Linked DNA regions of Homo sapiens: all the other regions are linked to region 2. Evidence: fine-mapped expression QTL. A gene starts in region 2. Each other region holds a variant in brackets. All regions are shown on one strand. Distances are from middle to middle. Region 1 overlaps DOCK3 (dedicator of cytokinesis 3). Region 2 holds the start of TMEM115 (transmembrane protein 115). Region 3 overlaps RBM6 (RNA binding motif protein 6).

What was found. PIP is the estimated chance that this variant, and not a neighbour inherited with it, causes the effect.
Region 1: its variant is fine-mapped to the expression of TMEM115 in whole blood (INTERVAL, PIP above 0.99).
Region 3: its variant is fine-mapped to the expression of TMEM115 in whole blood (INTERVAL, PIP above 0.99).

What each region holds. Positions count from the first base shown.
Region 1 is chr3:51,058,349-51,068,618 of GRCh38, reverse strand. It overlaps DOCK3 (dedicator of cytokinesis 3), which reads right to left. Exons shown (of 53, transcript NM_004947.5): 6 at 4,023-4,171. Among named protein-coding and RNA genes, the nearest start is that of MANF, 320 kb to the left of the region's middle. The variant G/TTG (reference allele first, on the strand shown) is at 5,405.
Region 2 is chr3:50,354,507-50,364,776 of GRCh38, reverse strand. It overlaps TMEM115 (transmembrane protein 115), which reads left to right and starts at 5,256. Exons shown (of 2, transcript NM_007024.5): 1 at 5,256-6,564; 2 at 9,230-10,027. The coding sequence starts at 5,714. The coding sequence ends at 9,434. CACNA2D2 (calcium voltage-gated channel auxiliary subunit alpha2delta 2) reads left to right here. Exons shown (of 38, transcript NM_006030.4): 38 at 1-2,164. The coding sequence ends at 111. LOC127898564 (CYB561D2-LOC101928965) reads right to left here. Exons shown (of 5, transcript NR_183066.1): 3 at 6,101-6,659. RefSeq lists enhancers at 1-209, 5,037-5,336, 5,063-5,953.
Region 3 is chr3:50,053,772-50,064,041 of GRCh38, reverse strand. It overlaps RBM6 (RNA binding motif protein 6), which reads right to left. Exons shown (of 21, transcript NM_005777.3): 8 at 9,647-9,707; 9 at 6,039-6,314; 10 at 5,480-5,640; 11 at 4,296-4,393; 12 at 3,044-3,086; 13 at 2,821-2,902; 14 at 2,495-2,580; 15 at 1,934-2,080. Among named protein-coding and RNA genes, the nearest start is that of RBM5, 30 kb to the left of the region's middle. The variant G/AG (reference allele first, on the strand shown) is at 6,372.

The sequences.
Region 1 (10,270 bases), 700 kb before region 2:
CAATGGGTAAACAGAGCTCTTGTCCTAGAAAGGCATAGCAGCATTTCTTCTTCTTCTTTTTTTTTTTTTTTTTTTTTTTCAGACGGAGTCTCGCTCTGTCGCCCAGGCTGGAGTGCAGTGGCGCAACCTCGGCTCACTGCAAGCTCCGCCTCCTGGGTTCACACCATTCTCCTGCCTCACCCTCCCGAGTAGCTGGGACTACAGGCGCCCGCCACCACGCCCGGCTAATTTTTTGTATTTTTAGTAGAGACAGGGTTTCACCGTGTTAGCCAGGATGGTCTCGATCTCTTGACCTCGTGATCTGCCCGCCTCGGCCTCCCAAAGTGCTGGGATTACAGGCGTGAGCCACCGCGCCCGGCCAAGGCATAGTAGCATTTCGTTACAACAGTGCATGAAGTGAGACCATGTACTTGCCATAGTGATGTAGACATATTTAATCAATACACTACTAATAACAATTACTAGTTTCTGAAATAGATTCTGAAAAGGCAGAGCTATAATGTCTGTGTAAGAGCTTAGAGAAAAGGCATAAGAGTTTAAAATCATATATTTAATTACATCAATTAAAACATTAAAATACATTTGGAAAACACTGATTCACATGCTAACATGTGCTAAACTTCAAGATTTTATGGCATTTATAAAAGTGTGGTGGAACAAGAAGTGTGGAACTATCAGAATAAAATGGGAACAATGGTTATAGTCATCTGTTCTCAGCTTTTGTGTGGAACAGTCTGTTTTACATAATCTAATGGTATGAAATGACTTTGTTTTTACAATATACCATCTTTTCTTTCAAAATAGGAAGAAAAGTTTTAAAAGAGTAAGCTCAAGGAGAAATCAGAAAGAACAGTCCTATCAGTTTTGGTGCAACATGTCTTTTCCTTTCAATAATGACAGACCTGCAAAGTTCTTGTTTAGGTTTTTAAGTGACTATATTTTCCACTGAAGGAAAGGAGAAAATAAGAAAAAAAGGAAGAGAGGGGTGGGGGAAAGAAGTGCAAGGGGAGGAAGAAAGGAGAAGAAAAGAAGACGGAAAGTAGGGAAGGGAGAAAAGGAGAAATAGGAAAGAGGGAGAAGGGAAGTGGGGAGGGGAATGGAACTGTGTTTTTCATTTTTGCTTATTAAGATATGCATATACATACCCCTCCAACGCGCGCGCACACACACACACACACACACACACACACAAACATATTTCATTGAGAAAAAGTCATGAAATTGGAATAGCCCTGTAATTTACTGGCAGGTATTTATAATGTTCTGAGCCTTTTTCAAGTACAATTTGAACTTGTTTCTAAGCTATCATCTATTTATTTTCAGATTTGATTGCAAAATCAGATTGGTTTGTTTTTCAAGTTTCATAATAAAGAGGTATAGGTACTGATAGTTCTGAAATAGTTCTATTTAATGGAATCTATAGTTGCAGTTAAACTGCAACATAATGAATTACACATTTATTAGTGTCATCAGTTCAACTGTGACCAATTTGCTTGGCACACAGTAATGTTATATTTGCAATTACTGTATTCTTATCATTGACTTAAAAATAAAAAGTGACATAATTTCATAACATAAAAATGTTTGGGTTTGAAGAGGCAGAATTAGTAGCTATGCTGTACATCAACATACTGTATTTTACTAAATTGTTATTCCCCAAAGTTAGATTTAGGGAACACTGATCTATGGTACACCTAAATTCATGTTATACACTATTATAGAAGGTAGTCTGTGGTAGGTGCCAAGCAATCCTACTAACAGTCATGATAGGGTGTAATTAAACAAAACAAACAAAGATATAAAGTTGTGGCTTCAAAAAGGTCACAAACAACGAATTTAGTGTTATATTTCCTCTTTTCTACTGATGAACACTACCAATTTGGGTGTGATCTACTGTTGATTAGATTCCATGTTTCCTCTTTCCTGATTTATTCTTCTACTTTGCAGAAGCACATCCGCAAGTCCCTTCTTAAGAAGGGGTCATGAGAGGGAACTTTCGTGCATCCCTGAATACCTAAAAATGGCTTTATGGTTTGTGTCCCCTCTCACTTAATTAGATGGTTGGGATTTGTAAAATAAAACTCTGGCTGGCAAATCATTTCCCTACAGAACTCTGAACATATTATTTCATTATCTCCTAGCATCCAGTGCTAATGATAACACTTTTGAGGACAGTATGATACTTATTCTTTTGTGAGAGGAACTATTTTTCTGTCTAAAACCCTTAAATAGTCTTCTCTTCATTCCTAGAATACTAAGCTATCTTAATGTGCCTCGTTGTGAGTTTTTGTTTGTTTGTTTTGTTTTTCCATTCATTATAAATATTTAGTGGGACGCTTTCAATCTTAATATTCCTGTTTTTTGGCTCTGACAAATTTTCTATTATTCCTTCAGAATTTCCCCCGTTCTTTTTTTGGAAGGCAAAATGTTTGATATTGGACCTCCCTGGGTAGAGCCTTTGTACTGAATTTCTTTCCTCATGTATTGCCTATATATTTGTCTTATTTTCCTAGGGATTACATAAAATTTGTCTTCTCTGAGTATTTTATTTTGGAAATTACATTCTCCACTTCTTTTACATGGCATCTTATTCTACATAGTGGATCTTTTAGATTCGATTTGAGGATATTAAAGTGTTTTTGTTTTGTTTTGTTTTAAAGTACTTTATCAATCTCAATTTGCTCTGGGGACAGGTTACTTTCTTTGTGTACAGGTGTTTTGTTAATCTTGGTCTCTCTCTGTCTTGTAGAAGCTTTTCTTCAAACATCTGGTGATACCTGATTGTCCATTCAAACTTAAAAGATAGCAGAAGAATTGTAGAGTTTTTTTGTACATGGGTAGGTGACTGGCAAGTTTCCCTTTCTGGTAAGCGGGAGCAATCTGCTCATTATACTTTAAAGTCCTTAAATGCCAGAATGTGGAGAGTTTTGCAAGAAAGTCCCAGTTCACACTCCTGTTGCCCAGTTTTTCCCCGGTAGCCATTTTTTATATTTGTTTATCTGAAGAGGAAATACCTGGCCAGGTTTCTGCTCATTGATTGGGGTAGACTGTTCCTTAGACACTCTTTTAAGCCAAGTCCTTTTCAAAGCTTCAAGACCTATCCCACCTTCTATGATTCTGGGAGCTGTGGGGCAGACTGACTCTCTCATTAACTAAGGTTTCCTCCACATATAATGGATTTACTCTGTCATTAATCTTTCATCTACTTTCCGGCTTCCAGAAATGGGCTCATAGATTTCATTTATTGGTGGGCCCCTCCCAAAAAGGATAAGGAGCTAAAGACACACATATAAATATACTTAAGGTATATGTATATTTTAAGTAGGAGGCAACCTGGTCACTTAAAAGTTCAATGGACCCAATTTTAAGAGAATGAGACAAAAGCACCTGAAATTTATATCAATTATAAAGTTATATTAATTATTATATCAATTATTGATATATCAATTATATTCACTGAAAATTATACCCTAACTTCCCATACCAAAGTCTTCAAATTGTACTTGTATGGCAATAGCAAATCATAGTTATTACATAAATGCAAGACTATTACTGAATGACAAGGTAGTCAAAAATATTCTGAAGTACAAATGTAGACAGTTTCCATTTGTAGGTTATGCTCATTCAGATTCATTGTATGGCTATAAAATGTGAAGGACACTAAATTCACATTTGAAGAAAGCACTAAAATATATTTTCAAGTGTATTCTGATTAGGAGGTGTAGAATCAAGAAATCTGAGGTCAAAGAAATTTAACTTTATAGGATAATCTAGTCCTATTATTTACCTCTTCTTTTCAGAAGCAAAAACAGAGGCTAAAAGAGGTTCAGCAACTAGAACCAGTGAGTATCCTTCGCTAACTAGGACAAATAACTGCTCCTAGCAAAAATGATGAAAGCTTAGTGAAGAATATAACATTGCCTTTGAATCATTAAAGAGAAGCTTTGTATAGGTGCAAACTCCCTGAAGACTGAGTTATCATAAATGAAACTGAGAGATACCCAAACAATTTTCATACTTACTCATTACCCCAGTCCAGGCGCACGGTGATGTGCCGCTTAACCTCCCGCACCTGATCCTGAGTCAGGTGACCAGACAGTAGCTGCCTTCGCAGGTCAATAAGTTCATTCATCACATGGCGTAGTTTGTAGAAAAGATCTACTTTGTGTTTCTGAAAGGGCATTTTTGGTGTTGGGTGAAATACAAGAGACATGGAAAAGGAATGAAAAGAAAAAGAGAAATAGTTAAACTATGAAAAGTGCTCATTTCTCTGAACTACTAAGGTAATATAAAGAGGAACTTAATTTTAAAGTCTGAAAGTCATTACCTCCTTCTATCCAAAAATCTCTACGTAGTGACATCCAACAAAGTAACATAATTGATTTGGATCATGCAAAAGTAGCATTTATCTCTACCACATCCTAGATTATTCATTTCTTTAGTAAATCAAAGTTACTAAACTTAGAACAGAATGTTACACAGGAGCCCAGAGCTGCTTTCCCTCACAGAAGTTGCAGTTCACATAAAAGCAAAAATTTCAACCATCCAGCAATAACTCTGGTTTCTCCAGGAGAGATATCCAAGTTGGGAGAGGAAGAATCATTTGCCCTATTTTGAAGCAACTAATGTTTCAATATAAAGCCACAGTCCCTGGAGTGAAATTCACTCCTGATTTCTAGGCCTCATCTGATTTTCTAATTAGCTTTTCTAAACGGTGTGTCCTTCCCCGACTCCCTCTGGTGTAACAGATTTCCAGTCTTTTCAGTTTAATAAAAATTGTCACCTTTGTAAGAGTTAAACGGAAACATCTTAACAAACTTAATTATGGACCTGGTAGTAGTTTTAACCTTAAAAGTAGAAAAATATAAGTGTCATGAGAATAGATGCTTCAGAAAAAAGATGTACTTAAAAATAATGTATGAGTTTAAAAACTCAAGTCCTATTTGCTGATATGTGAAATCTTGATTTTAGAATATTTTGGTTTCTGTATAATTAAAATTCTTGGGATGTAACTGATCTATAAATAATGCTTCTGAAGGCAGATTAAGATGTTAGTAAAATATCTGTATGAGATTTACCCTAAAAAAGATGTTTGCCAAAATAAGCTCAAGTCAAAGAAGCTATAAATAAAATTAGCTATACAGCAAATCACAAAACAGTAGAATCAGGTAGTGTTTTGAGGTGGCAGTGATCTTATAACTAAAACATTCAGAATATCATACTACTTAGAAATCATCTAATGTGACTTTTTTCTATTAAGAGACAGGATCTCACTCTCTCCCAGGTTGGAGTGCAGTAATATAATCAGCTCACTGCAGTCTCCAACTCCTGGGCTTGAGCAATCCCCTCAACTCAGCCTCCTGAGTGGCTCGGATTACAGGCCTGGCTAATATTTTTTTTTTTT[G/TTG]ATAGAGTCTTGATATGTTGCCCAGGCTGATCTCAAACTCTCAGGTCCAAGTAATCCTCTTGCTTCAGCCCCCTAAAGTGCTGGGATTAGAGACATGAGCCACCACACCTGGCCCCATTAGACTTTTAAAGATTCATCTTAAAGAGAAATTATTTTTAACTAGAAGATGTTAGGAATCATATACTCTAACTTCTCCTTTCTTTAATCGATGAACTGATGAAGAAAAGTTAAGCATCCTGATGGTACACAATGCTGGAAAAAGGTGAGAACTCACAAATTCCTGCCAGCTCAAAAACCAGCAAAGCCCAAGCAAACTATACCATCTGGAAAATTGGAATCTTGACGATTAAGCCATAAAGGCAATGTGATATTTGTTTCCAACACATACGTTTCATATTGATAAAACAAAATCACCTGTTTAAGTATAAAACAGAAAGTTTGAATTATTATTTTCCCATCAAAGCCTATATGATAGTCCATTGCATGTATACATCCACAAGCATTCATTCATTCATCCAATTAACAAATGCTTGTGCAGCACCTCTTGAGTACTAACACTTTGTTGTGATCAAAAGTCCCTGCTCTCATGGCACTTTTGATCTAGAGAGCAGGCAATAGGCAAATCATTAATGATGGTGATAAATTATAAAAAGAAAAATCAGAGTGGCCAAGGGTAGGCTGGCTGGGGCACTGGGGAAGGTACTGCTTTAGGTGGAGTGGTCAGGGAAAGACTTTTTGGGAGCTGAACTTTGAGAATACACCTGAATGAAGTAAGGTGGCAACATTTAAGAAAACTGGGGACATTATTCAGGCATAAGAAACAAGTGCAAAGGCCTTGAGGTGGAAGTAAACATGGCATGTTCAGGAAAAACAGGGTCAGTGTGTCTTGAGAAAGGGAAGATTGATGATGCAGACAGGCAGCAGGCACCAGGTTAAACACAGATTTTGTAAACCACCTTAAGGCTTTGGCTTTTATTCTAAGCAAGATGGGAAGTTACTGGAGATTTGGAGCAGAAGAGTGATGTGATATGACTTAAGTCTCGAAAGCATCACTCTGAGTGCTCTATTGAAGATAAACCATAAAAAGGCAAAGAGGAAGGCAGGGATTCCAGTCAGGAGGCTATTTAGTGCAACAGTTCACAGCATAACAGCTGCTTGGATGAAGGTAAGAATGCTGATGTTAAGAAGGGCTTGAAGTTTTGACATGTTTTGTAGGTAGAGGTGCCAGAATTTGCTGACGGACTAGATGTGGGTTATGAACAGAGTAAAGTATCACTCTTGTTTTGTGGCCTGGAAAGCATGCCTGGAAGAAGGAAACTAAGTTTAATTTTGGACATGCTAAGTCTGACACTGATTTCCAACATTCAGAGGTTAGGAAAGTGAGAAGTATTTAGCAGAGGAAACTAGAAGGAGTAAGCAGTGAGGTGAGAGGAAAAGCAGGAGAGTATGTGTCATGAAAGCCAAATGAAAACTGGATTTTTCTTTTCATGGCTTTTTTTTTTATTATACTTTAAGTTTTAGGGTACATGTTCACAACGTGCAGGTTAATTACATATGTATACATCTGCCATGTTGGTGTGCTGTACCCAGTAACTTGTCATTTAATGTTAGGTATATCTCCAAATGCTATCCCTCCCCCCTCTCCCCACCCCACATCAGGCCCCGGTGTGTGATGTTCCCCTTCCTATGTCGATGTGTTCTCATTGTTCAATTCCCATCTATGAGTGAGAACATGCGGTGTTTGGTTTTTTGTCCTTGCAATAGTTTGCTGAGAATGGTGGTTTCCAGCTTCATCCATGTCCCTACAAAGGACATGAACTCATCATTTTTTATGGCTGCATTGTATTCAATGGTGTATATGTGCCACATTTTCTTAATCCAGTCTATCACTGTTGGACATTTGGGTTGGTTCCAAGTCTTTGCTATTGTGAATAGTGCCGCAATAAACACACGTGTGTATGTGTCTTTATAGCAGCATGATTTATAATCCTTTGGGTATATATACAGTAATGGGATGGCTGGGTCAAATGGTATTTCAAGTTCTAGATCCCTGAGGAATCGCCACACTGACTTCCACAATGGTTGAACTAGTTTACAGTGCCACCAACAGTGTAAAAGTGTTCCTATTTCTCCACATCCTCTCCAGCACCTGTTGTTTCCTGACTTTTTAATGATCGCCATTCTAACTGGTGTGAGATGGTATCTCATTGTGGTTTTGATTTGCATTTCTCTGATGGCCAGTGATGAAGAGCATTTTTTCATGTGTCTGTTGGCTGCATAAATGTCTTCTTTTGAGAAGTGTCTGTTCATATCCTTTGCCCACTTGTTGATAGGGTTGTTTGTTTTTTTCTTGTAAATTTGTTTGAGTTCACTGTAGATTCTGGATATTAGCCCTTGACTTCAAACTATACTACAAGGCTACAGTAACCAAAACAGCATGGTACTGGTACCAAAACAGAGATATAGACCAATGGAACAGAACAGAGCCCTCAGAAATAATGCTGCTTATCTACAACCATCTGATCTTTGACAAACCTGACAAAAACAAGAAATGGGGAAAGGATTCCCTATTTAATAAATGGTGCTGGGAAAACTGGCTAGCAATATGTAGAAAGCTGAAACTGGATCCCTTCCTTACACCTTATACAAAAATTAATTCAAGATGGATTAAAGACTTAAGTGTTGACCTAAAACCATAAAAACCCTAGAAGAAAGCCTAGGCAGTACCATTCAGGACACAGGCATGGGCAAGGACTTCACGTATAAAACACCAAAAGCAATGGCAACAGAAGCCAAAATTGACAAATGGGATCTAATTAAACTAAAGAGCTTTTGCACAGCAAAAGAAACTACCATCAGAGTGAACAGGCAACCTACAGAATGGGAGAAAATTTTAGAAAACTGGATTTTAAGGAGGACTTTGTCAAAGGCACTGGGGGGTTAAATAAATATGAACTGAGAATTGGCCAGGGGATTTGGCATTGTGGTGGCTGTCACTGACCTCTACAGGAACAGTTTCTTTTTTTTTATATGCAATAGATGTCTTATTTTATTTTATTATTATTATACTTTAAGTTTTAGGGTACATGTGCACAATGTGCAGGTTCAATGAATTGTTGGAGTGAGTTTGAGTGAGATTGTGAGAGGAAGAAGTGGAGAAAGAGCACAGACAACTCTTCTGAAGAATCTGCAGTAACTAAAAGCAGAGAAATGGGGTAGCAGAATGTGACTGTGTGGTTAAGGAAGGGTTTTTAAAAGATTTGACAAAATTTCAAACTAAATTTTGAAGAGAATAATCTATTAGAGGGAGAAAATTTGATGATGCAGCTGTTAAATCCTTGAGTAGACATGAACAGATGGATCCTGGGGAAAAAAGGGGAGGGTTTGATTTAGGTAGGAGGCTTGATACTCTGTGTTACCTACCTATTCTTCACAGAGAGGAAGGGTACAGAATATGGGTAATGATACAGGTAGCTGGTAGATCTGGTAATAAGAGAACTAAAATTTTCCTCTGACTGCTTTATTCTCAGAGAAATAAAAAGCAATATCATCAGCTGGGAGTGAATAGAGTGGGAAGGGGTATTTGAGATTTGAGAATAGAGCAAACGATATAAAACAGTCTCTTACGGAGTGGTAACTTGAATTGACCAGAAAGTTAGTTCCATTGCTAGGTAGTTCTGAGATCTGTGAAAACTAATTAAAAGTAATGTGGGATGTGGGGTGTGTGTGTGTGTGTGTGTGTGTGTGTGTGTGTGTGTGGTTTTTTTTCTAGCAAAGTCTAATGAAGTATACTGATACTGAGGCATCATGTGTATTAATGTACATGTGTGCTATGGTCCAAATGTCTGCATTTCCCCCTCAATAAATTCATACATTGAAATCCTAACCCTCAAGGCAATGGTATTAGGAGGTGAAACTGTTTGGGAGATAATTAGGTTATAAGGGCCAAGCCCTCGTGAATGGGATTAGTGCCCTTATAAAATAGGCCCAAGGCCATTATCCTAAGAAAATTAATGCAGAAACAGAAAAACAAACACCGTATGTTCTCATTTACAAGTGGGAGCTAAACACTGGGTACTCATGAATATAAAAACAACAACAATAGACACTGGGGACTATTAGAGGGTGAAGACAGGGTGAAGTACAAGGGTTGAAACTTACCTGTTAGGTACTATGTTCACTACCCGTGTGAGGGGATTATTCACATCTCAAATGTCAGAATCATGCAACATACCCATGTAACAAACCTACACATGTACCCCCAGATCTAAAATAAAAGTTAAAATGATTTTATACATACATACATATATATGTAATTATTTTATACATATATGTATACACCCACAGCCAAATTTCCTATTAATATTTAATTAAATATTTGTATTTATTACCTTAAAAAAAATAGGCCCAAAGGGGAGGTTCTTTCATCCCTTCTCCCATGTGAAGCCATAGCAAGAAGGTGCAAACTATGAGGAAGTGGACCCCCACCAGACACTGATTCTGCCAATCTTGATCCTGGACTTCTCAGCCTCCAGAAATGTGATAAATAAACTTCTGTTGTTTATAAACTGCTCAACTTAGAAAATTTTGTTATAGCAGCCCAACAAACTAAGATGGCATATACGTATTATGTATGTGTATATTAATGCATATACATGTACATATATACACACATACACATGTAATACATACATAAATGCACAATACACATATACAATATCTATGCCACACGCACAAACACACACTATCTATGCAAGAATATACAAATGTAGTCTTTTAAGGCATTGTACATGGTTTTTTTTAATCAAGAGTTTCACAGATTGCATTTTCCAAAGATAACTACAATATCTCCCATGACAAGTGGTC
Region 2 (10,270 bases):
TCCTTCCCGCCGTCGCTGGGCGTCCTGGTCTCCCTGCAACTGCTGCTCCTCCTGGGCCTGCCGCCCCGGCCGCAGCCTCAAGTCCTCGTCCACGCCTCTCGCCGCCTCTGAGCACCCTGCCCCACCCCACCTCCACTCCCACCTCACCCGGCCTCTTCGCCTTTCCCACCCTCCTGCCCCACACTCCCCGCCTTAGAGCCTCGTCCCTCCCTCACTGAAGGACCTGAGCTGGCCAGGCCCTGAGAGTCTGGTCTGCGCCTTGGGATGGGGAGTCCCAAAGCGGGACGCCGCAGGTGTTTGGCACCCAAATCACATCTCACCTCCGAACTGTTCAAGTGTCCCCAGACCCTTCTTGCCTGCTGGGCTCCCCCCAGTGGGATGGGACAGGGAGGCCACACGCACTGGTGCCAAAACCAGGCCTCTGCTGCCGCCCTTCCTGGAGGCTGCCTATGTTGGGGGGGACCCTGCCTCAGCTGACCCGGCCTCTCTGCCCCACCCAAGCCCAAACTTGGTTTCTGTGAGAATAGTGGAGGAAGGTGAGATGGCCAGTTTGAAGCCTGTGCCTCCCAGCTTAAATCCTAGCAGGAGAGAGGCTCTGGGGCAGCCCCCATGGGCTCCTGCCCCTTTCAGGCCTACAGCCACATCCCCAAGCCCACCAGGTGTCAGGATAGTCACAGTGATACCAGTTCAGACACTACCCCATATACACCTGGAACATTGAGGATGGAAACTGGACTCACATTCGACATACCCCACTGGGCACACGCACAAACACACACACTATGGGGTGGGGTGGGTGTAGGGGCTTACAAAGCCTTACACAGGGCGAGGGGTTGGTGGGAGGGTTGGCACCTGCACACTCCATCTCCTGCTCACCACCTGCCTCTAATCTGAGCTGCAGCCTGGCTGGTCCTCCCATTTCTAAAGCTGAATGTCAAACAGTGCCAAATGCTGGGGCAGGGGGTGAAGAACCCTCTGTCCCACCCCTAGCCACCAGTGTCCTCCAAGTGCCCCCTCACCTCTCCAGGTGCTCATTGTAACCATTTCTCACTAGTGTCAGGCCCCCAGTGGGACCACATGCCACTGCCTGCACCTTTCGGCAGAGGAACCCCCACCAGACATCACCCTTTGCCTTAGCAGGGGTGACTTTGTCTCTCCTGGCTGGGCCATCCTTCCGCCAATCTGGCCCTTACACACTCAGGCCTGTGCCCACTCCCTATCTCCTTCCCACCCCTACACACACACTCCCTGCTTGCAGGAGGCCAAACTGTCCCTCCCTTGCTGAACACACACACACACACACACACACAGGTGGGGACTGGGCACAGCTCTTCACACCATTCATTCTGGTCATTTCCCCCAAAGGCATCCCAGCCTGGGGGCCAGTGGGGAACTGAGGGCAAGGGGATATAGTGATGGGGCTCAGATGGACTGGGAGGAGGGGGAGGGTGATGCATTAATTAATGGCTTCGTTAATTAATGTCATGTTGCTTGTCGCTTTCTCAGTGTGTGTGTGTGGTCCATGCCCACTGCTGGTGCCAGGGTGGGTGTCCATGTGCACCCGGCCTGGATGCCAGCTGTGTCCTTCGGGGGCGTGCGTGTAACTGTAGTGTAGTCAGGTGCTCAATGGAGAATATAAACATATACAGAAAAATATATATTTTAAGTTTAAAAAACAGAAAAACAGACAAAACAATCCCCATCAGGTAGCTGTCTAACCCCCAGCTGGGTCTAATCCTTCTCATTACCCACCCGACCTGGCTGCCCCTCACCTTGGGCTGGGGGACTGGGGGGCCATTTCCTTTTCTCTGCCCTTTTTTTGTTGTTCTATTTTGTACAGACAAGTTGGAAAAACAACAGCGACAAAAAAGTCAAGAAACTTTGTAAAATATCGTGTGTGTGATTCCTTGTAAAATATTTTCAAATGGTTTATTACAGAAGATCAGTTATTAAATAATGTTCATATTTTCACTTCAAATGGTTCCCATCCACTGTATCAGCTTGGGGGTGAGGACTGGGTAGCTATGAAGACAGTTGGCCAAGACCTCAGAGTCCCACTTAGTGCTCTGCAGGGGGTGAAGACCATGGTAGCCCAGGTCCCTGTCAACCACAGGGCATGGCACTTGCTTCCACCAGTTATAATAGGTGCCAGGCCCTTGACATACATTGTCTCATAACATCTCAAAAAGCTGTCTTTTAAAAACAAGCAAGACAGGCTGGGTGCGGTGGCTCATGCCTGTAATCTAGCATTTTGGGAGGCCGAGGCGGGCAGATCACTTGAGGTCAGGAGTTTGAGACCAGCCTGGCCAACATGGTGAAACCCCGTCTCTACTAAAAATACAAAAAAATTAGCCAGGCATGGTGGCATGCGCCTGTAATCCCAGCTACTTAGGAGGCTGAGGCAGGATAATTGCTTGACCCCAGGAGACGGAGGTTGCAGTGAGCCAAGATTGCGCCACCGCACCCCAGCCTGGATGACCGAGCGAGACTCTTGTCTCAGAAAAAAAAAAAATACAAGCAAAACAAACACCCTCCCAGAGCCTGAAAGCCAGGACCCTGGAGGGAAGAAGACAGATCAGAGATGCTGGTTTAGTGGGGAGGTGGATCTGGCAGTCTGGTCAGACCACCAGGGCCTGACAGGGCCTCTGCCGGGAGCTATGAGTGAGCACCTGGCCAGTGTCCCTACGGCCCAGGAAGCCCTGACCACAAGTGCAGCAACGGCTCCCTCCTGGCCCACAGGAGCTTGAGGCCGCAGCTGCTTAAACTGGAGCCATAGGCCAAACTTCATTTTTGTGAATCCTCTCAAGCTTAGGCCCTAGTTCATTTTCACCCTAGAAGGTGTGACCTTTGCGATCTTCTCATGTGGAGAGAATTATAACCTGTAACCACCAGAGCACAGGTGTCCCTGCCTTCCCACCACAGTCCTCTCTCTCCTCCCAACACTCTGCTCTCTGCGCACTGACCTGGCTGAGTCCTCGCCACAGTCTCTGGGGTGGGTACTAGTGTATCCCCATACCACAGATGAGCAAACTAAGAGGAGAAAGCCTTTCCCCCCAGGTGAGAAGGCTAAAAACCAGCAAAGATTTTAGAGAAGAGGTGGCCACCAAGGGTTGGGGAGCTTGGATGCTAAATAGATGAAGGGGCTTCGAGGCCTCAGCCAAGATGGAGACTTTTTCTGTCTCCTCTGCAGGGTTCGGCTGCAGAGCAATGCCTAATCCACAACCCCCAAGACAGCTCCCATGGCCTGCAAGAGACCGTGCAATCTTGGATAGGGTTGTAAGATAAAATACAGAACACCCTATTTTGAATTTCAGATCATGAACGAGTTTTTAGTATGGAAGTGTTTCAACTATTGTGTGGGACATACCTATACTGAAAAACTGGGGGCTGGGCACAGTGGCTAACGCCTGTAATCCCAACACTTTGGGAGGCTGATGCAGGAGGATCGCTTGAGCTCACGAGTTCGAGATCAGCCTGGGTAGGATGGCCACCCCGCCCCTGCCCATGTCTCTACAAAATAAAAAAATTTTAAAAATTAGCTGGGCACAGTAGTGTGTGCCTGTAGTCGCAGCTAATCAGGAGGCTGAGGCTGGAGGATCCCTTCAGCCCAGGAGTTAGAGGTGGCAGTGAGCTATGATTGTGCCACTGCACTCCAGCCTTGGACAAAGCTAGACCCTGTCTCAAAAAAAAAAAAAAAAAAAAAAGGGGGCAGGGGGACATGATTATACTCGAAGATTACTCATTGTTTATCTGGAATTCAAATTTGACTGAGCATCCTTATTTTGATTTGCTAAAACTGGCAACCTTACCCAGATGTGGCAACCAGTGGGAACCCAGACCCCAGAAAAAAAGCATCAGCACCCTTTTTAACCTGTAGGCCATGCACACATCAGCACACACTGAAATCAGTGGCTGAAAGGAAGGGATCCTGTGTTTTATAAAAGCACTTTGTCATAGAATTATTTTAATTATATGGACAGCTTTTTGTTTTGTTTTGAGACAAAGTTTCGCTCTTGTTGCCCAGGCTGTAGTGCAATGGCATGATCTTGGCTCACCGCAACCTCCGCCTCCCGGGTTCAAGCGATTCTCCTGCCTCAGCATCCCGAGTAGATGGGATTACAGGCATGTGCCACCACACCTGGCTAATTTTGTATTTTTAGTAGAGATGAGGTTTATCCATGTTGGTCAGGCTGGTCTCAAACTCCCGACCTCAGGTGATCTGCCCGCCTCAGCCTCCCAAAGTGCTGGGATTACAGGCGTGAGCCACCGTGCCCAGCCTATATGTACAGTTTTTTAAAAGTAACTCCATATACAAAAAAAAAAAAAAGACACAGAACACAACCTGTCAGAAGTCACTGTGGCGTGAAGTGGGACCAGAACAGGCCTAGCCCAGGCTTGTGGAGAGACCTGGCTTGTAGAGAGACCTCTCATCCTCCGCAGTTATCAGAAGTCCCTGGTGGGGAGGAGGGTCACTGAGGGCTGCCCAGCCTCGTCCCTATGCGGGAGGGAGCCCTAGGTTCGTGCTCCAGGTCCACCTCACTTGGAAAAAGGGCAACGTGAAATAACAAACAAAAAACTTTTCCAAGTGGGAGAAAACAAACAAAAAAAGGCAACATGTGCAGCACTCGCTGAGCACCCAGGGTGGACTGGCATTTTACACCCCTTTCCCCTTTGATTATTAGGACAGGAAGATCATGTCATCAGCTACATTTTATGGCCCATGAAACTGAGTTTCAAAAAGGTTCAGGAACTTAACCAACCAATGCCACACAGCCTCCGAGGCAGAGCAAGGGTTCCAGCCTGGGTCAGGTCCCATTCACCAGACCACGGAGGTTCTGTTTCTCACACAGTGACACCTACCCACACGCCAGCCAACAAGGACACACTCGCTCAGAGGTACACGCACAAATAGAGCTACTCTTCCTAGGGAATTCAGCAAGTGTGGGGGCTAGAGCTGTGTTGCTTCCCGAACCCTCACCGCCGCTTTCAGGGGTTAGAGATGCTAATTCATCCCTTCCCACCTCCTGAGAACCGACGGAAACGGTCCCTGAGAACTACAACTCCCAGCACACCCCGCGCTCACCACAACGGGACCGGTCCGTGCTCATGGCCTCCTGGGACTTGTAGTTCTAGCCAGAACCCTGTTCAACTCTTCCCCGGCTGCAACCAAGGACTCCGTATCCCAGCATGCAGAGGAGCCGGAAGACAGGCGCTTAGAGGACAGCCCGCTGCCGCCGGGGACGCGCAGGCGCAGCACCCCTGTTTGTCGGCCCCCCGAGAGAAGAGGTACGGTCGAAGCCAGGAGCCAGGCCGAGCGGGAGCTGACCAGGCTTGACTCGGGTACAGAACGAGGCACCAGTCCCCTTGCGAACCGAAGGGCCTCGCAGTGGATGGAGGAGGCCCAGCCCTGAGGTCAACGCCAACCAGGCTAGCCTGGCACGGGGCCTACAGGGTGGGTAGGCGGGCGTGCCGCAGCCGTCCAGGGCCTTCCCTCAGGTCCCGGGCGAGGGGCCTACGCTGCGGCCCGGCAACAAGGCCCGACTCGGCCCCTCGGGACCAGAGCCCCACCCGATCGGAAGCGGATCCTTTACCAGGGCCATAGGCCAGTGACTAGGCCGGGCCTGGGCCTCCCATCGGGGCCGGACTAGGACGAGGCCCCGGGGAGGCCCCTGGCCTACCAGACCCTTTTCTCAGGCCGACAGCCGCCAGGAAGATGCAACGTGCCCTGCCAGGCGCCCGCCAGCACTTGGGGGCCATTCTGGCCAGCGCCAGCGTGGTGGTGAAGGCTCTGTGTGCGGCGGTACTATTCCTCTACCTGCTCTCCTTCGCCGTGGACACAGGCTGCCTGGCGGTCACCCCGGGCTACCTCTTTCCTCCCAACTTCTGGATCTGGACCCTGGCCACCCATGGGCTGATGGAGCAGCATGTGTGGGACGTGGCCATCAGCCTGACAACGGTGGTGGTGGCCGGGCGTTTGCTGGAGCCCCTCTGGGGGGCCTTGGAGCTGCTCATCTTCTTCTCAGTGGTGAATGTGTCTGTAGGGCTGCTGGGGGCCTTCGCCTACCTCCTCACCTACATGGCTTCCTTCAACCTGGTCTACCTGTTCACTGTCCGTATCCACGGCGCCTTGGGCTTCCTAGGTGGCGTCCTGGTGGCACTCAAGCAAACCATGGGGGACTGTGTGGTCCTGCGAGTGCCCCAGGTGCGCGTCAGTGTGATGCCCATGCTGCTGCTGGCGCTGCTGCTCCTGCTGCGGCTCGCCACGCTGCTCCAGAGCCCGGCGCTGGCTTCCTATGGCTTCGGGCTGCTCTCCAGTTGGGTATATCTTCGCTTCTACCAGCGCCATAGCCGGGGCCGAGGGGACATGGCTGACCACTTTGCTTTCGCCACTTTCTTCCCTGAGATCCTGCAGCCTGTGGTGGGTTTGCTGGCGAACTTGGTGCACAGCCTCCTGGTGAAGGTAAAGATATGCCAGAAGACGGTGAAGCGCTACGATGTGGGTGCCCCATCCTCCATCACCATCAGCCTGCCAGGCACAGACCCTCAAGACGCCGAGCGGAGAAGGTACTGTGAAATTTTCCAAAATCTTGTCAAGCTAGGAGCATACTGGTCGAGTCACATGCCATCTGTTGAGGTGTTCGCTGTACATAGGTGGAGACCTACAGTCAGGTATTGGGGCACATCCGGAAAGACAAAATCAGTCTTTGGCCTTAAGGAACTCAGCAGTTAGGTGTCTGGGGTCCACGAGGCACTTTTCTCACCACTCGGGCCACTTAATAAGTCTCAAGAAATGCAGTTTCCTTTGGTGCTGTGAAGTCCCAGTGGAGGGACACAGAACCCTGGCCTTGCCTCAGAATCTCAGAATCCTAGACATTGGGCCTGTGGGAGCCAGAAGCAACCTGCTGGTACTTTCCCCTGTGAGGAAGGGACAGGGAAGGAGGCCTGGGGTCCTCAAAAGGTGATCTGGGCCACTCCAATTTCCAAATGCTGTGTCCTCTTCCTGGGCTTTAACTCAGATGCTGTGCTTCTCTGCCACTTACTTATTGAGAGGGAAGCTTGGGGTATTACCACATTTACCTCTGTCTCCAGCAAGCATGTGTCACCAAAACCAGGGACAGGCTACATGACCCACTGAGGGAGCCTGCTGACACCAGGGAGTGGCGATGACCCTTTCATTATCTGTAAACCAAGCTATCCACAGCATCAGGAGTCCCAGCTGAATTATTCACTGAATGCACTTTGGCCAGGGCAGGAGGGATCTTTTTAAATTCAGCTTACTCTCTCTCCCAGATCTGTGGAGCCAGCAGAGTGGTCCCAGCCTTCATAAGATCCACAGCTCCATTTCCAACATTATTCCTCACTGTTTTGAGGCAATTACTCGAGTAGTAAAATCTGGGACGGGCTTTGTCTTTTGCATTGCCAAGGCTCCTGCTTTTGCTCACCTGTGAATGGGGTTGTGGCAGGAAGCTCTATGAATTTAGCTGCAGTTATCCCTGTATTTACTCTCCACTGGGCTATGGAATTGAGTGTGGGACACACTCCTTTCTTGAAGGAGTTCCAGCTGGGGAAGGGCCACAGATCACTATGGCCCAAGGTATGGTAGGTGTTGAAAAGTATATACAGCATGCTGCAGGGCATAATTCTGGGCCCTAGAGCTTGGGTCTTTATAGGTGATAAGCCCTAAGGACAGAAGTCTCTCTTAACCTTAGCTGGTATTAAAGATGGGGCCAGGTGAGCTGGGCCTGGTAGGAATTGAGCTGTCCCTCAGAGCCATTCAGGTGGGGCCAGGCCAGTGGGGACCCCTCCTCCACTGAGAGGTGTTGGAATGTTAGGGTTGGCTGGACATTCAAAAACCTCTGCCTAGGCCCAAGAAAATGGACAGGGGGGAAGCAGGTTGGTGGGGAGGAAGGGAGGGTCAAGAGGCGGGTTCTTGGCATAGCCTTATGGTTGTTAGCTTACATGGGGGTGGCGGTTATTCCTCCAGCCAGTTTGACATCTGACTGCATGGCCACGCCCAACTCCAAAGGGCTACCAGGAGAGGGAGGCAGGGTTTCCTATCTGTCTCTCTGGTCCTTGTGAGGAAGTGACTAGCGTAACACTAGCTCTCTGCCTTGGCAGGCTTTAGATGGAACTGGCAAGGGCATCATCAGGATGGCAGCCTGGGTAGCAGCAGGGAAAGACTGTCCTGTCTATACCAACTTGTCATGTGTGAGACTGACGGGCAGGGGGGAAGCGTGCTAGGGCTTTCTACACCTGTGCCCTTGTTGCCTCTCTTGTCGTGTTCCCTGACATGGTGGAGATTTTGGTTCTCAGCTGGAACCTGAAAGGCTACACAGGCTGTCCCCACATTGGTGGCACAGAGAGGCTGAGGTATAGGAGTCCACAGTGGTCACTGTTGAAACGGTTCCCTGGCAGCTGCAGCACTCCACCTTCTGGTGGGTCAGGGTCCCAAGCACATGTGTAAACCTTCTTCTGTTGGACTTTCCCACCTGCCCTCAAAGTGGGGCCTCTAAGGGTCCACCCTGTGGAAGCAGTAGGCTCTGGCCTGTGCCTACCCATGTGAGCTGTTTCTCCTTCTTCTCCTCTTGCAAGGGCTCCGCTAAGTCCCTGCTCTAACAAGGGCCTTGGTGGCTTTGGGGGTTCTTCTGAGAGGGAGAATATTAGCATCAGTTAGGAGGGGTAGACTCACCCAAGTTGGCCCTGCTTCCTGGGCTGAGAGCCAAGGGAGGTGTTGAATTCCAGCCTTCCCCATTGACCCTTGCCAGGAGGCTCAAGATACCCCTAACCAGGAGAGGGGGAGAATTAATAACCCTTCCCTTGGATGTGATGCCAGCACCCAGGCAGAAACTCCTGGAAACTCCAGAACTTGCCGTTCCACCCATCTGCCCTAGGGCACTAGTTCCACTGACCCTTAGATACCACCCTCAGAACCATTCCTGGTGGCTGGCCTCGTGGGCAGTCTGGCAGACACCCAGCTGACCTTCCCATCCCGGAGGTGCCTCAGCTATGGAGGGAAGATTCTTAGAGCCTTTGGGTTATCATTCTGATGGCAGAGTGGGTCCTAAACCAATCTCTGGGGAGTCCCAGGCTCTGCATGGTGAAGGGGAAACATAGGATTCTGGGGGAGGAGTCTAGGTGGTACGGTGAGGAGTCAGCCTGCTGCGGAAGGGTAGAGGGCATGAGCCAAGGCCAAACCCAGAGTGACCTTTCCTCTCTCCTCTGGCCCCAGGCAACTGGCCCTGAAGGCACTCAATGAGCGGCTGAAGAGAGTGGAAGACCAGTCCATCTGGCCCAGCATGGATGATGATGAAGAGGAGTCTGGGGCCAAGGTGGACAGCCCCCTGCCCTCAGACAAAGCTCCCACACCCCCAGGGAAGGGGGCTGCCCCAGAATCCAGTCTAATCACCTTCGAGGCAGCTCCCCCGACGCTGTAACTCCAGACCACCTTGAGTGTGGCACCTCCCCTCCCAAGCCCCCCTTGACATCCTCTCAGCTACTCCAGGGCACCTGACTGCTCTGAGGAGAGGGAAGAAGGCCTGCTGGGGCTTTCCATGGCCTTCTGCTGTTTCTCGCCAACACTACCCAGGACTCTTGCTACCTGGTTCCAACTCCAGACAACCACTATGCCAGGCCCGGAGCCTCTGAGGCATCGGCCAGTCCAGGCCCTCATCTGAGGTAAGAATGTACATCAGCTGGCAGCCCCAAGCAAGTGGCTGCAGGGACACTGATGCCACAGCTCCTGGGCCGGCCCTCACATCTGAAACTGGTTGCCGAGAGCCCTGAGCCAAGGCAAGGATTTGCCAAAAATGTTCTGGGGGCCCAGCAAATGCAGGAGCCGACCTGGGGCTGCACATCCCTGCCCATCCCCAGAAAGACTGTTCCTGTCAGGATTTGTTTCCCTCTGCTGTGGCGGTGACTGCTTCTGGACCAGAACAGCTCCAGCTCCCAGGTATTTTCTACAGGACCACTTGAGTGGGCAGCCAAGCCCAGGCTCGCAGTATCAATAAAGCAGTTCTCTGAGGAATGACTCCTGGGCTCTTGTCAGGCCACCTTGTGCAGCCCCCTCATCACGTTCAACTGCAATGTTAGACAGGGACTTGATTGTCTCCATGGTAACTCCAGCTGGATAAGAAGCCCATTGCCCCAGCTCCCCACCACCGCCACCACCACCACCACATGCGCACTGCCAAGCAGCCTTCCAAGAGCTATTGCCTCAGACTCTTACTCCTTTTTTCTTTCCCTCCAAACCCCAATCTGGGAGGCCTTCTGT
Region 3 (10,270 bases), 300 kb after region 2:
GAATCCCTTGAGCCTGGAAGGCGGAGGTTGCAGTGAGCCGAGATAGATCACGCCACTGCACTCCAGCCTGGGCGACAGAGCGGCTCCGTCTCAAAAGAAAAAAAAGGGAAAAAAAGGTGTTATGAATTGAATCACAAGCAAATTCATCCATTTTCACTAATGCATAACTGATATCAAGGTAGGTGTGATCTTGGCTCACTGCAACCTCTGCCTCTCAGGTTCAAGAGATTCTCCTGCCTCAGCCTCCTGAGTAGCTGGGACTACAGGCTTGCGCCACCACGTCCAGCTAATTTTTGTCTTTTTAGTAGAGATGGGGGTTTCACCATATTGGCTAGGCGGTCTCAAACTCCTGACCTAAAGTAATCCGCCTGCCTTGGCCTCTCAAAGTGCTGGGATTACAGGCATGAGCCACCATGCCCGGCAGATTTTCTTTTTTTTTTTTTTTTGAGACAAGTCTGGCTCTGTTGTCCATGCTGGAGTGCAGTGGCGCAATCACAGCTCACTGCAATCTCCTGGGCTCAAGCGATCCTCTTAACTCAGTCTCCCAAGTAGCTTGGACTACAGGCATGCATCACCACAGTAGGCTAATTTTTTTTGTATTTTTGGTAGAGATGGAGTTTCACCATGTTGCTGGTGTCAAACTCCTAAACTCAGGCATCCACCTGTCTTGGCCTCCCAACGTGCTGGGATTACAGGTGTGAGCCACTGCACCCTGCCTAATAATTTGATTTTGTATTAGATGTAAAAATGTTCATCATCTCTGATTCTGAAAATGTGTCATAGGGAGTAATTTAAAAGAAGAAACAAAATGCTAAATGTTATATATTATGACAGTATAAGATTAGAAAGAGGCGAGCAAGGTGGGTCTTGCCTGTAACTGAAGCACTTTGGGAGACTGAGACAGGAAGCTTACTTGAGGCCAGAAGTTCGAGATCAGCCTGGTCAATCTAGCAAGATCCTGTCTCTACAAAAAAGCAAAAATTAGCTGGTCATGGTGGCTCATGCCTGTAGTCCCCGCTACTTGGGAGGCTGAGGTGGGAGGACTGCTTAAGCCCATGGGTTTGACGTAGAAGTGAGCTATGATCATGCCACTGCACTCCAACCTGGGAGACAGAGGAAGACTTTGTCTCAGAAAAAAAAAAAAAAAAAGGAAAAAGAAAAGATTAGAAAGAGAAGACAAATAATGTAGGAGAGATGAAGAAAATGAAGGTACAGTTATACCGTGAATTTTTACCATGTGGGCATTAAAAATAATAGAGTATATAGAAACATGGAAAAAATACTTAGGATAAAAAGTGACTAAACAGTATCTCCTGCTATAATTACAACTAGAGAAATGTGTATAAAGTCAAACACTAAAAAAGGAATGTAGAAAAGTGAAAATGTATGGAGCTGAGGTGTTGGGATTTGAGCTGGGCCACTTTGTTCTACCATCCATAGTTTTCCCATTTGTAAAAGAGAGAGTTGGGATATAAGAGGTGAGGGAATTGCCTACACCAGGTAAAAATACTCATTAACAGAGGTTTTTTTTTTTTTTTTGATACAGAGTCTTGCTCTGTTGCCAGGCTGGAGTGTAGTGGCGCGATCTCGGCTCACTGCAACCTCTGCCTCCAGGGTTCAAGCAATTCTCCTGCCTCAGCCTCCTGAGTAGCTGGGACTACAGGCGTGTACCACCACACGCAGCTAATTTTTGTATTTTTAGTAGAGACAGGGGTTTCACCATGTTGGCCAGGATGGTCTCGATCTCCTGACCTCATGATCCGCCCGCCTTGGCCTCCCAAAGTGCTGGGATTACAGGCGTTAGCCACCACGCCCGGCTGACAGAGTATTTTTAAAGTTACTTTACACTTGCAAACATAGATATCCTCTGTTCGTACCTCCAACATTTTAATAACTATGTGGCAAAAGACAGCAAATTAACAATTCCTCTTACCCTCGTCACTCCTCTGTCTTTTTTCTCCTTGCCATCTCTTTTAGACATTTCCTTCTTGCTACTTGACTTTCCTTGACTGGTGGGTTTTTTTTCCTTGATCTCTTCTTCCTCAGGTAATCCAGGATCCTGGGGCACATAGACTTCTTGCTGCGATACAGTTGGAAACAAGTAAGTCTACAGAATGTTTCAGTTTCCCAGCAATTCCAGGTCTAAGGCGCACAGTTCCCTTTTAGGGGAAGAAACAACTTTTTTACTTACAAGTCTAAGAAGAGTCCACATCAATCTAAAAACCCACTCCAGGGACCAGGACACATTCAGACCACCCACTGTCCACTTTTTCAAGAGCAACACTGTTCTTACCTGTATTGCCACAAGGCACTGATTTTCCATATAGGCAACAGTTCTGTTTCCATAGATCTAAACTTTTCCACTTTTCATGCAATGAGCATCCAGAGAATCCAGGGAATAAAATCCTCAAGTAGCAAATTATGGGTGCTTTTCTCAAAAGAATCATTGACAGAGGTAAAAAAAAAAAAAAAAAAAAAAAAGCCCCAAACTCACCTGGGTATTGGGGTCATAATAAGTTCCTGCCAAGGGGTCATAATAGTAGCCAGTAGCAGAATCATATATGTAGCAGTCAGATGATGCTAAAGGTAACAAGATCAGAGCCAATGTTAGTCTCTGTCCAATGAAGCCCTTACTGGAGACTCATCAAGAACCCAAGAATTAGGGTGACCAACACAAATAGGTGCATCTACAGATGCCTCTCTCTGGATGAGCACCCTCAGTCAACAGTGTATCTTGCCAACTGTGATCACACAGATGTCAAGTAATGAGTAGCAAGTCAAGCAAAAAAGAGCAACAGAAATAAAACAAAGGTTACTTACACTGTTGTCCTTGTCGATTTGTATCTGAAGACCAGTCTGAATTTCTGCCACCTCCCCTCCTATCTCGGAAATATTTTTTACCCTATCACAGAAAGGCAAGTTAAAATTACAGAACTATCCAATGGTCATTCACCTTAACAGTCACCCACTAAAGAAAATTCAAGATCACCCTTATAGTCACCTGAGGATTTTAATAGAGCACTCCCCACCTGTTACAGCCTACCTGATAGTAATGCATGTGGTCAGAATGGTCCCCAGAATCATTTCTGCAACAGATAACACAACAATTCTTAAGGCTGCTACCAAGTGGCATTTGACGAGTACTTAATCCTACAGTTCCTATCGAGAAATCCTCTGTTCCTCATTTTGCAGGGAAAGGAACCAACCTAGACAGCAAGCAGGTTGGGTGGTCCAGACACTCCTGAAAGAATGAGCAGTAAGACTCTTTTTTTTTTTTTTTTTTTTTTTGAGACGGAGTCTTGCTCTGTCGCCCAGGCTGGAGTGCGGTGGCGTGATCTCAGCTCACTGCAAGCTCCGCCTCCTGGGTTCACACCATTCTCCTGCCTCAGCCTCCCAAGTAGCTGGGACTACAGGTGCCCACCACCACGCCCAGCTAATTTTTTTTTTTTTGTATTTTTAGTAGAGACGGGGTTTTACCGTGTTAGCCAGGATGATCTCAATCTCCTGACCTCATGATCTGCCCGCCTCGGCCTCCCCAGGTGCTGAGATTACAGGCGTGAGCCACCACGCCTGCCCAATGAGCAGTAAGACTCTTACAAAGCCAAGTGGTGGAGCAAAACAGCCATTAAGTGGAGGGTGCTAGAGCAAGATATGCCCCATATTGGTAAGCCTGTTTCTCTGACATGGCCATTTCCAAGTTACCACTCCTGGGTCAAGATGAGTGAAGGAGGAAAGAGAAATTAGATTTCCCAGTGCTATGGAAATATGCACAAGGTCAGGGGAAGGAAAAGCCAGGACAGCATTTTCCTAGGATTGCAAGGGGCAAGAATGTATTGACATGTGTCTGCACATCCAAAACTGTACCATCATTTTTTTGTTAAGAGATAGGGTCTTGCTGTGTTGCCCAGGGTAGAGTACAGTGGTTATTCACAGGCATCTTCATTGCACACTATGGCCTAGAACTCCTGGGCTCATGTAACCCGCTCCCCATCTCGCCTCAGCCTCTTTAGTAGCTTGGAATAGAGATATGTGCTACCACGCCAGGCCATTTGGGACCCAAAGATACCAGACAGTCAAAAGGGAAAGGACAAAAGTACCTAGTATTATTCAAGAAAGAAAACAATTCGAGAGTCAGGACAAGTCAGGCTTCAGAAAGAAACTGTAATAAACACCTATCTGAAGCAGTCCATGTTAGGAAAACATCATGCTTTACTGTTTTTCCAGCCAGGAAAAGGAGTTTCCTCTCAAAAACACAAGTGGGGGCAGCACAAGAGATCCTCACCCTTCTGCCTTACCTTCGTTTTCCAGTGGCCAGGTTTACAGCTACCATCTTCCCATCAATGCTAAATGGCGGATCAAGGTTCTGTAAGATCTTCACCACACGAAGAGCTTCCTATAGAACCAGACACACTTGAACCCAGAGACAGAAAATGCCAGAACCCAAAGACAGAAAAATTCTCCTTTGAAAGAGAAGTGAACGTGGATTTTCCTTCTCAGAGGATAAATTTACTACATTATATTCTGTCAAAATTTTAACAGTAAGAGCATACTGGCAGAAACAGGCAACTTTTAATGAAGGACTGATTGGAACAGGAATCAGAATAGATGTCAGTTCTGGCATAAACTTCAGAAATTCAAATCCTCTTCTTTTAGGTTGCAATTATCATCAATCAGATTCAGTTTACAAAGTCCCTTGTGACTTTTGAGCATGAAAAATCTAAGAAATACCAATGACTTTCATTATCTTCACCTTACTTCCATAGAAAAAGGCCCCGCAACTAAAAATTTAAGCCACAGGAATCTATAAATACTTTGAGGAAAAAGAGGAAATGTTTTATCATCAAATATAAAACCATCTGTGGCTGGACAAAATAAATCAGAAAGTTCACTAAAATCATGAAGGATTCAGTACTCAGATTCTTCACAAGCGAGTAAGTTGGAAACAGTAAATGACACAAGAAAAAAATGAACCTAGAAAACCAGACGGGATCCTAACTTTTGAGGGCTGTCACCTGACCTGAATGAACAATAAACCCAAAGGAGAGAGCAAGAGGGATTATGATATCAGGTAGCACACAAGAATTCAAATGATCAAGAAGTCCCTCAAATTTTTTTTTTTTTTTTTTGAGACAGAGTCTCGCTCTGTCACCCAGGCTGAAGTGCAGTGGCGCGATCTCGGCTCACTGCAAGCTCCGCCTCCGGAGTTCACGCCATTCTCCTGCCTCAGCCTCCCGAGTAGCTGCGACTACAGGCGCCTGCCACCACGCCCAGCTAATTTTTCTGTATTTTTTAGTAGAGACAGGGTTTCACCGTGTTAGCCAGGATGGTCTTGATTTCCTGACCTCGTGATCCACCCACCTCGGCCTCCCAAAGTGCTGGGATTACAGGCGTAAGCCACCAGGCCCGGCCCCCAGTCAAACCTTCTTGAAGGTTCTTTAGCCATCTGTCTCTAGGCCAATCCAAGGTGGAGGAAACTCACCGCATGGGAGTCGAGGTCAATAAAGCCATAGGTATGCCCCATAGGGCCTGTTCTGTTCTTGATGATACGGACGTTGGCAGTAGTAAGGCGGACATAGGGCTCCAGCACTTCCACTATCACCTCAGGTGGTGTGGAACGATAGATACGCTTTAGCATGATAGCTGAATCAACCATAAATGGGAGAAGGGCAACACAAGGGAGAGAAAGATAAATTTTTGAAGTCCCAAGAATCTGACTGTCATTTTTTACTATAGATGCTACTAGCAAGGCTGGTTCTGTAAAAAAATGCTAAACAAATAAATACTGCATACTTTTCTTCACCAATACTTAGAAATCTAAAATCATGCCTTACTGCATTCATATAGCAATTTACTATTTGAAGGGCATAGATTCCTTTAAGCAGTACAGGAAGGTCCACAGACAGCAATGGCCTCTGTCATCAGGTCATGCACAGATCTCTCAGGGTACTGGAAAGCAGATAGCTCCCGGACATAACATTGGCCATCTATGCTCCATTGTGATGATCACAGTCTGGTATGTGCCCTGACAAACTACTTACTTTTGCTCTCTCCATCCTGGCGTGTCTCTCCAGACCATGACTCCCTCTCTCGGTCTCTTCGGAAAGTTGGCCCTTCCCTTCGAGAAGGAGGCAGATACCTTTCTGCTTCTCTCTTTTGATGTCCTAAGCGTGACTCTTGGCCTTCTTCCCTCTTCCTGGGTTCAGGTTCCTTATCAGCTGGTCTTAGGGGCTGGTTGGGCTGTTTTTCCAATGGTGCTGGTATGGATGTTTTCTGAGGCTGAGGGTAGGTTATTAATTCTTGCTTGGCCTCTGTCACTAGTGGAACAGAAACAAAGAGAATCTCTAGAAAGCTTTATCAAAAAAAAAAAAAAA[G/AG]AAAAAACACTGCTACTGTAATTTCTCCTTACCTGCCAGCAAATACTCATACTGGAATGCCTTTTTTTTTTTTTTTTTTTTTTGAGACGGAGTTTTGCTCTTGTTGCCCAGCTGAAGTGCAATGGCATGATCTTGGCTCACTGCAACCTCTGCCTCCCGGGTTCAAGCGATTCTCCTGCCTCAGCCTTCAGAGTAGCTGGGATCACAGGTGCCCACCACCACGCCCAGGTAATTTTTTGTATTTTTAGTAGAAACGAGGTTTCACCATGTTGGCCAGGCTGGTCTCGAACTCCTGACCTCAGGTGATCCACTTGCCTCGGCCTCCCAGAGTGCTGGGATTACAGGTGTGAGCAAACACGCCCGGCCTGGAATGCTTTTAATATTATCTCAGAAATATCTAATAAAAAGTCCTCTGACAGTTCCTGACAAAATATTTTAAGTGAAGCTGAGACAGGACATGAAATAGTTCACAGAAGAAACTATCCAAGCATTTAAAAAATGTAATCTTATGAAATCTCTATATCACCTACTAAACATTTAAATATAACAAATCCTTCATGACACCTTGAACCTGACTATCATAATCAATGATAACAACACATCTGGGGACAAAATTACCGAAGATATGGCCCTTACTTAAGGTTTAGTAGAAACACATATCCCAAACACACATCTAGAAGCCTTGCTTCTTCCAGTGTTACAGTGCTCAAACAGCTACTCATATCCTGTAAGACCACAGGCCCTCCTCCAGTGAAGCTAGGAACAGACCCTATCTGCACGTAGCTCCTTTATATGCAAATAAACATAATGGGCAGACGTCCTTCAAAATATAAATGATTTATTTCAAATGTCCTACTACAGCAGGATAATTTGTCTTTATAGTTTGTTTTATAATTAGGGGCACATTCTTGTAACTAATTCATTCTTGGAGGGTTCACTGGAATCCATGTGGCTCAAAAAGAGGTATTATATGAGAGCAATATAGAGATTACATAATAGCAGTGACAGGTTTCCAGATTAAAGCTGTCTCATCTTAGTGGTATGGTGCCCAGTGGTTTTCATACACTATCTATTCATGGCCGGGAGCGGTGGCTCACGCCTGTAATCCCAGCACATTGGGAGACTGAGGCGGGCAGATCACGAGGTCAGGAGATCGAGACCATCCTGGCTAACACAGTGAAACCCTGTCTCTACTGAAAATACAAAAAATTAGCTGGGCACGGTGGCGGGTGCCTGTAATCCCAGCTACTTGGGAGGCTGAGGCAGGAGAATGGCGTGAACCTGGGAGGCAGAGCTTGCAGTGAGCCGAGATTGCGCCACTGCACTTCAGCCTGGGTGACAGAGCAAGACTCCGTCTCAAAAAAAAAAAGAAAAAAAACAAAAAACTATCTATTCATTTGCTGGAATAGCTTTGAAAAAAAGTGTTTCTTGTGGGGGGAAAAAAACACAACTTTGCCTAACCTGAAGTGACCTAACAAGCAAAAATCTCAGTTGTTCATCCTCCTTCCCACATTTTGGTTTGGTTTCTAGAACATACACAGCCTTCCCCTAAAGATTTTCAGAACACCTGCCTTTCAGTCTTCACCAGAGTAAAATCTCCACAAGAGGACAAAAGCCCACCTAAGAAACTCCTTGTAGGCACATTAAACTCTAACCTTGCAACAAACAGAAGGCTACCTGAATCCCTGCACTGAACTATATTTTATGGTCATGCTGTGGCTTTCCTTAAGGGATGACTACAGGACTGTTGTTATGGATGCATGTGTCTGACTCTTCGAAGTTGCCTACCTGAAATTTCTCTAAAGAAATTTACATTAAAGATAAGTGCTTGAGAAGCTGGTAGTTTTATTCCTCTAAAATAATAAAATGTTCCCCACATCCTGATTATTTTCTCCTATTTATGTTTTTACTGTTATTTTAACAAATGTTTTTCTCTTGAAAATCCTGAAATGCTTACAGAATGTAAAAGAGAAAACAATAGAGCAAATGATTCCCAATAACTTCAAAGAAGTAGGAGTGGGAGAAAGGTTTGCCACACAGACTGATGTCATAAAGACTCTTTTTCAACCTAACATCCTTAATCCTTAAATGTATTCCAAATAACAATATACTGACCTCTGCTCAGCTGCCCACTTAGCCACTTTAGCCTAGGAGCCCACAACCCTATCTCTTTCCTCTGGTGAAAATAAGATCTGAAATCATTTACTAACAGGTTACGTTAAGTTGGGCACCAAACTGCAATTTTTTTTTTCTCACTCTGTTGCCTAGGCTGGAGTGCAGTGGCGAGATCTCAGCTCACTGCAACCTCTGACTCCTGGGTTCAAGCGATTCTAGTGTCTCAGCCTCCCAAGGAGCTGGGATTCCAAGCATGTGCCACCACACCTGTGGCTAATTTTTGTAATTTTAGTAGAGACAGGGTTTCGGCATGTTGGTCAGGCTGGTCTTGAACTCCTGACCACAGGTGATCCACCTGCCTTGGCCTCCCAAAGTGCTGGGATTACAAGCGTTAGCCACCATGCCTAGCTCAAATTGCACTTTTGAAAGGTTTGGGCCGGTCGTGGTGGTTCACGCCTGTAATCGCAGCACTTTGGGAGGCTGAGGCAGACAGATCACGAGGTCAGGAGATCGAGACCATCCTGGCTAACACGGTGAAACTCCGTCTCTACTAAAATACAAATAATTAGCTGGGCATGGTGGTGGGCGCCTATAGTCCCAGCTACTAGAGAGGCTGAGGCAGGAGAACAGCGTGAACCTGGGAGGCGGAGCTTGCAGTGATCCGAGATTGCGCCACTGCACTCCAGCCTGGGTGAGTACGAGACTCTGTCTCAAAAATAAATAAATAAATAAAGGTTTGCAGGCCTTGTGCAGTGATTCACACCTGTAATCCCAGCACTATGGGAGGCCAAGGTGGGTCGGGTCACAAGGTCAGGAGTTCAAGGCCAGCCTGACCAACATGGTGAAACCCCGTCTCTACTAAAAATACAAAAAAATTAGCCGGGCTACAGGGCGTGGTGGCACATGCCTGGAATCCCAGCTAATCAGGAGGCTAGGGCAGGGGAATCGCTTGAACCTGGGAGCTGGAGGTTGCAGTGAGCCAAGATGGTGCCACTGCACTCCAGCCTGGGCAACACAGCGAGACTCCATCTCAAAAAAAAAAAAAAAGGTTTGTAGATCAACTTGGATTTAGGGATGATAATTCTTCAAAGCCAAGGAAAACATGAAATTTGTTTTGCTCAATGCACGAGATAAAAACTGCTACCACTTTCGCCACTCACCTTCTCTTGGGTTCTTGCAGAATGAACAGGAAGATCGGTGCCCACCAATGTTTGCCTTACACTGTAAGGAAGAAGGAAATCAATTTGACTGAAAACATTTTTAAAAATCTTATGTATATCTAACAAAGTGAAACCCCCCAAAAATGAAAGAAACAAGCCATATCCCAGATCCCCTCAAAGCTTAAAAAAAGAATCTGATATTCCCCACTGATTAGAGCTGGCAGATGGGATCTGATGAGCTACTGTTTGAGAGCTACCTTATAACAAGGCATCTGGGACTTTGGTGCAGCCCAAATGCCTTTGCCCTGGATAAAGATTCCTATAGGAAATATGCCTAGAAAACTACTGTTACATGGTTTATAGAATATTATTGTCCCAAAGCCATTTACAGTCTGCACCCAAAACTTGGGCCTGAACTGACTATGAGATCCCCATTCACATTTGGCTAGAACTGAGAATTCAGTTATCAACTCCTTTCTCAAACACTGATAATGAGGTACAAGGTAGGAGGAAGAGATACAGATAGTGTCTCTGGCAGCTATCTAAAAGACATTGAAAGGGAACATTCACTAGCCCAGAATAAGGTAAGAGACATTTTTAATGTGAATGTAATTATTTTTGTCT